Regions from separate parts of the Homo sapiens genome. Here region 1 is linked to region 2. Evidence: fine-mapped expression QTL. A gene starts in region 2. The other region holds a variant in brackets. All regions are shown on one strand. Distances are between the middles of the regions. Region 1 overlaps NEK1 (NIMA related kinase 1). Region 2 holds the start of NEK1 (NIMA related kinase 1).

Region 1 (5,384 bases), 120 kb after region 2:
GTGGCTTTCTCAGATGCTGTTTTTTGTAGTTTTTGCTTGGCGGTGTAATTCAGGCTGCAGTCCAGTAGATGGTGCCGAAGAGTAAGATACAGCAGATTTATTTAGGCTCTGTTCACTTTCATCGAGCCACCAGAGAAGCCCAGAAAGGGCCATTGGGCCCCAACAGAAAGAACTGCTGCCATGTCCACAATCATGCACTTTGGCGAGATGAGAAGGTGAGAGATGACCCCCTTCTCCACGTTTGTTCCGAGGCATTGGCGCTGCCCCCTTCAGTGGTTAGTGCTGCACCCACATTTCCTGTTTCCCATTGGTGGCTTTGACAGGCTGCTCTGTCTCCTCCTTGAGGGGCAGTTTGTGCCAAGTGTTCAATCTGTGGGAGACCCCAAACTCCCTGAGAATCTGCTGGTGTCATGTACTTGCCAAAGTCAGAGTAGGTTGTGTAGTATGTCTGCGGGTGGTGGTGCAGTGGCTCAAGGGCAGAGGATCTACAAGCAAGGGGAGTGGCACCACAGGTACACAACTGGTATGACAACTGCCATCTCAGTTTGGATCAGAGGTGGGTGCAGCATGGCTAAGTCAGCTGCTCACCCAGTTCTCTGTTTTCAGGAAGTCCTCTAATCGCCACCGATAGTGTTGCCCTGGCTTGCAAGGGCTGAGGGGCTCCCCAGCTGTTTAGCAGCCAGTGTGTTGTCAGAGGGGTGAGGGGAGCAGAGACACACTCCCACCTACAGTTTCTGCTGGACTCTGAGTTCCTCAGCGGTCGCTATCAACCAGACTTTTGCTGCTTTCTTTCTCTCCACCCAATCTTCTTCACGTGGGTACTCCAACAGGTCCTGGCTCTGTTCCCTCTGTTTCCTTGTCAAAACTTGATGATTTACCAGTAATTTTGATCTTCCTTCTGAGGAGAACGGGCATGAGATGTCCGTAGTCACAATCTTGAAGCAGCGTCTGAATCTTATTTTTCCATCCATTCTAAATCTTTTGATTGGAGAGCTTAATTACATTGAAGATTGTTATTGATAGGTAAGCACGTACTACTGCATTTGTTATTGTTTTCTGGTTGTTTTTTGGTCCTTTGTTCCTTTCTTCTTCTCTTATTGTCTACTCTTGTGATTTTGTGCTATGTGCTAAGTTTTGATTCCTTTCTCGTTCTCATTTGTGTATCTACTGTAGTTTTTTGCTTTGTAGTTAATCATGAGGCTTACACAAAGCATCTTATAGTAATAATAGACTATTTTAAGCTGATAACAATTTAACTTTGTCACATGAAGATATTCTAGACTTTTACCCTCCTCACAATTATTTTGGCTGTCACAGTTTATACCTTTTTACATTTTGGACTTCATAACAACTTAATGCAATTACAGTTGTTTTTTACTGTTTCAACATTTAACCTTTATAATAGCAATTTGAGAGATTTACACACCATTGTTGCAGTAATGGAATATTCTGAATTTGAATATATATAAATACCTCTCTACCAGTGAGTTTTATACTTTGATATGTTCTTGTGGTAGTAGTTATTGTTCTTTTGTTTCTGGTTGAAGAACTCTTAAGCATTTCTTGTAAATCAGTTCTAGAGGTGATGAATTCCCTTAGCTTCTGTCTATCTGGGAAAGACTTTACTTCTATTTTATTTCTGAAAAACAGCTTTTCTAAGTATAGTATTGTTGGCTGGCAGGGTTTTTTTAATTAGCACCTTGAGTATATTATCCCATTCTCTCCTGACCTGCAAGATTTCTGCTGAGAAATCTGCTGATAGTCTAATGGCGAGCCCCTTGTATGTTGCTTGATGCTCTTCTCCCTCTGCTTTTAAAATTCTTTGTCTTTTACTTTTAATGTTTTAAATTATAAAGTGCCTTGGTGAGGACCTCTTTGCATTGAACCTGTTTGTTAGTTTTCAACTTCTGTAGATATGGATGACCATATCACTCCCAAGACTTGGGAAGTGTTCAGCAAGTACTTCACTTAAAAAGCCTTCTGTGCCTTTCTCCATCTCTCTTTTTTTTTTTTTTTTTTTTTTTTTTTGAGATGGAGTCTTCCTCTGTTGCTGGAGTGCAGTGACGTAATCTTGGCTCACTGCAGCCTCCACCTCCTGGGTTCAAGCGATTCTCCTGCCTCAGCCTCCCAAGTAGCTGGGACTACAGGCGCATGCCACCACACCTGGCTAATTTTTTGTATTTTTAGTAGAGACAGGGCTTCACCATGTTAGCCAGGATGGTCTTGATCTCCTGACCTCGTGATCCTCCCGCCTTGGCCTCCCAAAGTGCTGGGATTACAGGCGTGAGCCACCATGCCCGGCCTCATCTCTTCTCTTTCTAGAGCTCATACTGTGACATTTGTTCCTTTCATGGTGTTCCATAATTCCTATAGGCTTTCTTCACTTTTTCTCTATCTGGGCAACTTCAAAAGACCTATCTTCAAATTCACAGATTGTTTCCTCTGCTTGATCTAGTCTGCTGTTGAAGCTCTCAGTTTTTAACAATTTCATTCATTGAATTCTTCAGCCCCAAGATTTCTGTTTGGTTCTTTTTGTGTTATGTATATCTTTATTGAGCTTGTGATTCATATCATGGATTATTTTGCTGATTTCATTGAATTGTCTATCCTCTTGTATATCCCTGAGTTTCCGTAAGATCATTACTTTGATTTCTCTATCAGGTAATTTGTAAATTTCCATTTCTTTGGGGTCATTATCTGGAGAATTATTCCTTTGATGGTGTCATGTTTTCCTGCTTTTTCATGTTTCTTGTGTCCTTGCATTGATAACTGCACATCTAGTGGATCAGTGACCTCTTCCAAATCTATAGAGTTGCTTTTGTAGGGGATGATTTTACCTATAGATGATTGCTAGGGGGTCAGTTGAGCAGGGTGCATTGGCT[C/G]TGTGGGTGGTGGTGCAGTGGCTCAAGGGCAGAGGTTCTGCCTCTGGTTCCAGGTAGGCACGGTAGTGTAGTGTCCATGCAGCTCCTTCAGTTGTAATCAATTTGAGTAATGGCTGCAGGTACTTTAGCCATGACTGTAGGAGTGTGTGACAGCAGTGGTAGCAGCATAGGTTATTAGGATTCTCAGTGACAAGGGCTTTAGTGGGGGTCCTCCTGCTCTTGTTTATCGTACCGTGGGGAGACTTTGTTGGGGAAATCCTTCTTGTTGTCAGATTTGGCAGAGCTCACAAGCAGCCTACAGTGGTGCTAGGGTCCTGGGCCCACTGTCTTCCTGAATTACTATGATACTTGTGACTTGAGTACAAGTTCACTCTCTGAGGTATGGGTAGATGAAGCTGTTCTACAAAGGTGGGGACTGACTCTAAGGCATTCCCCAGTAGCTTGGGCCCAGGTAGCAGGGATATAGCTGTGACTCTGATCCTGAGAGTCAGGGCACAGCACTGGCATGGGTCTGGAGAAGAAGAGATGTTCTAGAGGCTTGGACCCTAGGGAGCAGGGCATAACTGCACTTCAGTTTCTGGAGCCAGTAGGGCATAGTGGCAACTTGGACACCAGGAGAGGAGGTTCCTTGTAGTGGTGACTCTGGCATGGCAGGACATAGCAATGGACCAGACTTTGTGAGGCTGGGTACAGCAGCAACAAGGGCCCATGAATGGTGGGGCACAGCTGTGACTTAGGCATTGGGGAAGGGAATAGCACAACAATGACTCCACCCTTCTGTATATGGCCATACTTAGCCTGTGCTTCACAGGGTTTCTGCCACTCCCTTGCTATTCTCTGACATTCTTAAGTCACTCTGGTCAAAATGCAGTTATCAATTCATTGTTTTTGTCCTTTTTTGTGGGGCAGAGGGTAGAGCATTAGGCATTTGTAATTTGCCATCCTGCTGATGTCACCACCCTCCTTGCCTGGCTGCCTGGCTACCTAGCTGCCTCCTTCCCTCCCTCCCTCCGCCCCTCTATAGTTAGTTTCTATTGCCTTCAACCAAAGAATCTTAACTGATTTACCACGTAAAATGCTCAGCATGGTACCTGGTGAATAGTAACACAAATAAATTCATTGGGAATTCTGTGTCTCATGATATTCCAGAGCTGTGCATAAGGAAATGTTCAGGAAACATCTGTTTATTTAATGCACACTGGTATAGTGGGAAAAAAATGAGACTGGGAATCAGAATACCTGATTTTGGTCTCAGCCTTGCCAATTAATTAGCTTGTTTGAAGATTGACTTAATGTTTGTGGCCTTTATTTCCTCGTCTAGATGAAGGGCATATTCTCTAATGTTGCTCTATCTAAATTGTATAGAAAAATAGTATCCATAATGTAAGTATTTAGATCCAGCTTAATATACAAAAAAAAATTGATTAAAGTTATTTAACTATTATTTCAATAGAAAGTCTAATATAGCATAATCTAGATGTTATATTGGGGGGTAGTGTTCATATATCTATCTTTACTCATTGACCGTTACTCAGGAGTGGTTAACATGGAATTCAGAATTGAAGCTAGCATTATTAAGCCCCCTAAAATATTAATGTAAAGTTTGGCAGTATGTATGTTGGTGCATTTTCTTCAGTAAAACCACGTATATTTCCTTGGATTCTCAAAAGTATAATATTTTCAATCTAACAAAGGATAAAAATCACTGCCCTGTAACCAAACCAGCATGGTACTGGTACAAAAATAGACACATAGAACAATGGAAGAGAATAGAGAACTCAGAAATAAACCACATACCTACACGGAACTGATCTTTGAAAAACCTGACAAAAACAAGCAATAGGGAAAGGATTTCCTATTTAATAAATGGTGCTGGGAGAACTGGCTAGTCATATGCAGAAAATTGAAACTGGATCCCCCTTCCTTAAACTTTATACAAAAGTTAACGCAAGATGGATTAAAGATGTAAATGTAAAACCCAAAACTATAGAAATCCTAGAAGAAAATCTAGGCAGTATCGTTCAGGACACAGGCACAAATAAAGATTTCATGATGAAATGCCAAAAGCAATAGCGACAAAAGCAAAAATTGGCAAATGGGATCTAATTAACTAAAGAGCTTTTGCACAGCAAAAGAAACTGTCATCAGAGTGAACAGACAACCTACAGAATGGGAGAAAATTTTTGCAATCTATCCATCTGACAAAGAGCTAATATCCAGAGTCTACAAGGAACTTAAACAAATTTACAAGAAAAAAACAAAAATGTCCATTTTTACGCATTAAAAAATGGGCAAAGGACATAAACAGACACTTCTTAAAAAGAAGACATGCATGCAGCCAACAAACATGAAAAAAAGCTCAACATCTCTGATCATTAGAGAAATGCAAATCAGAACCACAGAGAAATACCATATCACATCAGTCAGAATGGCAATTATTAAAAAATCAAGAAACAACAGATGCTGGCAAAGTTACAGAGAAAAAGGAATGCATTTACACTG
Region 2 (5,384 bases):
AGAGTTAACAGTGAGTTCAAACCACATAAGGCTAGAGTAGACTTTCAGGAACGTGGCTTAAATAACTAAAAATTTCTCGCCTAGAATGTAGCAAGATGGAGTACTAAATGCCAAGACATTGACTTTTTTTTCTCCCTTGGATTTGAATATTACATGTCTGTAAAAGATCTGGATTTTAGAGAATGCTTTTCTTCATATTTAGTATTTTAGGCCCTTCTCTAATCACAAAAGATTGTAGGTAAGTATGCATATTCTCACTCATAGGTGGGAATTGAACAATGAGAACACAAGGACACAGGAAGGGGAACATCACACACCGGGGCCTGTTCTGGGGTGGGAGGAGGGGGGAGGGTTAGCATTAACATGTTAAATGACGAGTTAATGGGTGCAGCACACCAACATGGCACATGTATACATATGTAACCTGCATGTTGTACACAAGTACCCTAAAACTTAAAGTATAATTTAAAAAAAAAGATTTTAGGTGAGTATAATCAGAACTTATGCCTTCATAAATACATAGTCTTAATAAAATCATTTACATAATAATTTCACAAAGGGAAAATAGTGTAGTTCTATACCAACCATTTGCTCTAATTTGTTATTCTCTATTTTGTTTCACCTTGCTGCCTGCTTTCTAGAAAGAAGGAATAACAATATCCATTCTTTGAATATGTTTGTCCCCATCATCTAACATATAGTGCTTAATTGTGAATGCATGGCAGAATATATTTCTGAAAAATCTAGTAGAATAGCTTAGGTATACTGCTAGTCCCCTTCCATTTACTATATTGTACTACCACTATTAATAAGGAGTTAAGAAATTTTCATAACCAAGACATAGGAGTGTTAAAGTGAAAAAATATGCATACATTTTGACCCAGCAAACCTACTTTTCGAAATCTATCCCACAGAAGTAATTATACCATTGGAAACAATATGTCTACTGAATGGAGTAGATTTTGGTATAGCCATATCATGAAATATCAATATCATTCACAAGAATTAGTTGATATCCGCATAGATGTTCATATACTATTAAATTTAAAAATGTACGTTGCAAAATAATATGTATACTATAGTCCCGGCTAGGCACAGTGGCTCACGCCTGTAATCCCAGCACTTTGGGAGGCCAAAGCAGGCAGAATTACTTGAGCTCAGGAGTTCAAAACCAGCCTGAGCAACATGGTAGAACCCATCTCTACAAAACACACACACAAGAAGCCTGGGCAACATGGCAAAAACCCTATCTCTACAAAAAAAATACCGAAATTAGCCAGGTGTGATGGCACGCACCCATGGTCCCAGCTGCTCGGGAGGCTGAAGTGGGAGAATCACTTGAGCCTGGAAGGCGGAGGTTGCAGGGAGCTAAGATCGCGCCACTGCACTCCAGCTTGGGAAACAGAATGAGACCCTGTCTCCAAAATAAATAAGTAAATAAAAGACTAAGACTAATATATAAAATATAAAAATGCATGCTTATGTTTTTAGGAACTTAGAGAAAAATGTAGATGATATTAATTAACTGTTAACATTGGTTTCGTGGAGGACAGCACAGAAGAGCTCTGGGAAGGAGACGATAGGCTTTATCTTTGTGTACTTGTGTTACTGGCTTGTTGCAAGAAGCAAAAACTTTTTTGTTTGAAAGAAAAGTCCAATAAAATATTTAAAGAAAAAGAAACCCCAAAGCACTCTTGTTTAAAAATAAAAAAAAAAATCAATTGTACAGGGGTATATAAACCAGAAAGGGAAATCAGGTAATCTTCTTAGGTAACCTGCTTTATTTACTCATCAATATATCAATGGTATCTTTGTATGTCAATAAAGTAGATCTTGATTACTCTTTTAAATGGCTTTAGAGTATTTCATTGTTTGGATATATTATAATTTAATCAATTCTTTATTGTTATACATTTACAGTATTTCTAGTTTTTCTGGTTATAAACAATAACGGTTATCCTTGTATATAAATCATTGCTCACTTGTTCCAGAAGTTAAATTGCTGAGTCAAAGGATATGCATACTGCTAGCATACCTTCTAGAAAGACTGTAGCAGTTTGTAGTCCTACCAATAGTTTATGACATGAGCCTAAAGAATTATCTAAGGAGGTTAGCTGACTAGCCATTCTTCCTGTAAGCAGCAAAAAGAATTTGCTTAGATTAGTAATTGGCAACATTTCACTTCACTTTGATGTACAAAAGGATGTGGGTAGAACTACAATTGTGCATTCAGACATGATAATTCCTACTAACTGGGGGTAGGAGGGCCCACAGGAGTGTAGACTAGAAGTAGAAAGAATGAGGAAAATAAGTCTTTTGTAGCTGTATGGCGATTGAAGAGGAGATAAAACAAACTCTCCAGCTTTTCAGGTTGGGTGACTTGCAGCGCCATCGTCTGGCAAAGCCGCCAAAATCTTTCAATGTCCCTAGGAATAAAGTTGCCCTGAGTAGGGCCACTCAGGATGACGCCAGATGATATCCCTTATTATAGTTTTAGGGGAATCTCTTCCTACCTTCGCCAGTCCTGCAGTGAAAAAATGTACTTAGACTGCTGTACATTTCCAAACCCTTCAACATACAGACAAGTAATTTATACATACATTAGATGTAAAGGTGTAGAAAACCCCATACAGCTTTTTAAAAATATCTCAAGACTTAAACATTCTTCTGTTTCAACCATCCAAGATATAATAGGAAAAGACTTGCTTTTTAAAGCAAAATTGCTCTTTAAAATGTGGCATCCCTAAGTAGTGCGCTTTCATGTAAAATAAAAAAGTCCCTTTCTCGGTGTAGTAGCTGTGGGAAAATTTTATATGCTTTATATTCCAAATTGGTTTCAACTAGTGAGTTCTCTCCCGCATCTCTGCATGACTCTTAACAGCTTTACACTCTCTCCATCCTTTTCATCTCTCCCGTCTCGTCCTTTCTGTCTTCCCGCCTGCAGAGCCCGCCCCTCCCGTCCCTTCGCACAGCACCCCGCCCGCCCCTTCGCACAGCACCCCGCCCGACCCTACGGTTCTAGCCCAGCCTCACTGCTCCTTCCCAGCCGCCTCCGCTGCGTGCCGCCTTCCACGCGCTGACGTCACACGCCAGCGCCGGTGACGCGCCGGCCGCTCTCCCTTAGTCCGCATTCGCTCCAGGGTTTTGGGACCCTAGGTTGCGGAGTCCTTACCCTACCCTGGCCTCTCGAGCAGTTGTCCCCATAACTCGGAATCTAGAGCCGCTGTTGCGAGGCAGGAGCACGTGGCAGTCAAGTAGCTTCCCAGTCCCGAACGCCGCCCGTCCCCACCCCGCCGTGGCCACTAGCAACGACCTCTGTGAAGTTGGAGAGGCGGTAACGGAGGCACTCCCCCTGCTGCACCCCGCCGTTTCTACGGGGCTCAGAAACCAGTTTGTTTGTTTCGTCGGGGTAGTGTCGACCTGTCTTACGGGCGTCGCCCGAGACAGGACGGAGTCAAACCCGTGGTATCAACTGAAGACGAGTGTCAGGTGTGGAGAGTCTCAGTGCCCCCTTTCAGTCTGGACTGTGAGCTGCTGCTGGTTAGACAGTCTTGGTTTCTCTTTCAGGATGTCATTTTCAAAATGCGGGATGGTACCTCTGCTTTATTAAGCCCCGTAGGAAGACTGCCACACCTAGACTGATGCTTATTAGTCATCACCGTTATTCCTACTAACGTCCTGTGTCACTGAGGTGAGTTCCACTTGGGGGAAGGAATGACATGCAAAATGGTAAAAATCATCCTGGAAATGAGATGTGCGTAGAACTGCTTATATTGAGATTACACAGATACCTTAAGTGTTTGCAGGGAAAATACCTTAATCTCATTTAAATGTTAATTCTCTAAGACACTCTGTATTAACAAAGCGATTCTTGGACATTACGGTATTTTTAAAAACTAGAGCGGTAATGGGATTAAAATAATAGGAATCTTAGTATGGATAAGCAAGCATTTGCATTGCTTATGTTGTGTCCAATCTTAAATTACTGATAAATTTTAATTAGGAAGCGAATATGAGTAGTAGTTAGCTGGTTACCCTGTAATCTTAGATTTCTGTTTCCATGATTTGACACAGTTTCCATATGTAAGGCATTAATTGTTGTACTACTTTAAGAGTTTATCATAACTTTTTTTGCAGGCCTATTTTTTGTTCTTTAAGATCTGCTTTAGGAAGCAGAAATATTTTTTATTGCCTTGGTATGTTTCATTAGAAATGTTTATGAAGGATTAAAAGTGGCATCCAATCTAAGTTAATGACCTTTTTTTATGATGCAGCAGTATTGTAGAGCTGATGGAGGGGAGCCAAATTTGGAGAGAAGTAACTCCTTGTTTCTAGTTTACATTTGTCTGGTTTTAGAGGTTCTACAGATCTGTTTCACTTAAAATATCCATTGTTCTAGGTGAAATGTAAGGAGCCTATTTTGTGGGAAAACAGGTTTTTTTCACGTTAAAAGTCACTGTCAGGAATTTAATAAAGGTCGTCGGACTTGACCACAGAAGTTCTTTTGAGGTCGTGTGAATAGTACATTGACATTGTATTCCAAGTAAATTTTGCCCTGTCTAATCTCCTGCCTTCTAGTCTAAGTCATGAACATGACACCTTTTCACGAATGTACATTCTTTATTTACCTGTTGGTAGTTTCTACTACAAAATCTGTTGAATATTGTCTGAATAGACTTACAGAGAAGAAAAAATATTTTGAAAAAAGTCTAATAGAAATTCCATTTTTGCTTTCTGCTTTTTCGAATAAAGGAAGATAAAGAACTTTTTTCCTGAGAAGATAAATGGATCCCCTCCCACTATTCAAGATGGTATTTATTGCTTAGGCAGAACTGTATGTATGGATTGTAGCTGCATACAGCGCCAAAAGACTTCTTGAAACCTGTTGCCATGCCTTTACCATGTTTCCCTTCAAGACAGCCTGTCTATAGAATATCTGAAACACCTGATGAGAGCTTAATGCTTAACCTAAGTATGTGTTCCAGATTGATCGAAGTTGAGCTTTTCCATTCATATACTCTAAAATTGTTTATATGTGGCTCACAAAATTTTATTATGTCCAAAATTGCTTATTTGTGGCTTTAAAGAAATTCTTAGTGGCTGGGTGCTGTGGCTCTTACCTGTAATCCCAGCAGTTTGGGAGGCCACGGTGGGTGGATCACTTGAGGTCAGGAGGTTGAGACAAGCCTGGCTGACCTGGCGAACCCATATCTACCAAAAATACAAAAAATTAGACGGGCGTGGTGGTGCGTGCCTGTAATCCCAGCTACTTGGAAGGCTAACACAGGATAATTGCTTGAACCCGGGAGGCAGAGGTTGCAGTGAGCCGAGATACTGCCACTGCACTGTAGCCTGGGCGACTGAGTGAGGCTTGTCTCAAAGAA

What was found. PIP is the estimated chance that this variant, and not a neighbour inherited with it, causes the effect.
Region 1: its variant is fine-mapped to the expression of NEK1 in whole blood (INTERVAL, PIP above 0.99).

What each region holds. Positions count from the first base shown.
Region 1 is chr4:169,487,781-169,493,164 of GRCh38, reverse strand. The region is part of intron 23 of NEK1 (NIMA related kinase 1); the gene reads left to right. Among named protein-coding and RNA genes, the nearest start is that of NEK1, 120 kb to the left of the region's middle. The variant C/G (reference allele first, on the strand shown) is at 2,883.
Region 2 is chr4:169,610,327-169,615,710 of GRCh38, reverse strand. NEK1 (NIMA related kinase 1) reads left to right here and starts at 3,128. Exons shown (of 36, transcript NM_001199397.3): 1 at 3,128-3,489; 2 at 3,568-3,691. RefSeq lists enhancers at 3,056-3,115, 3,536-3,655.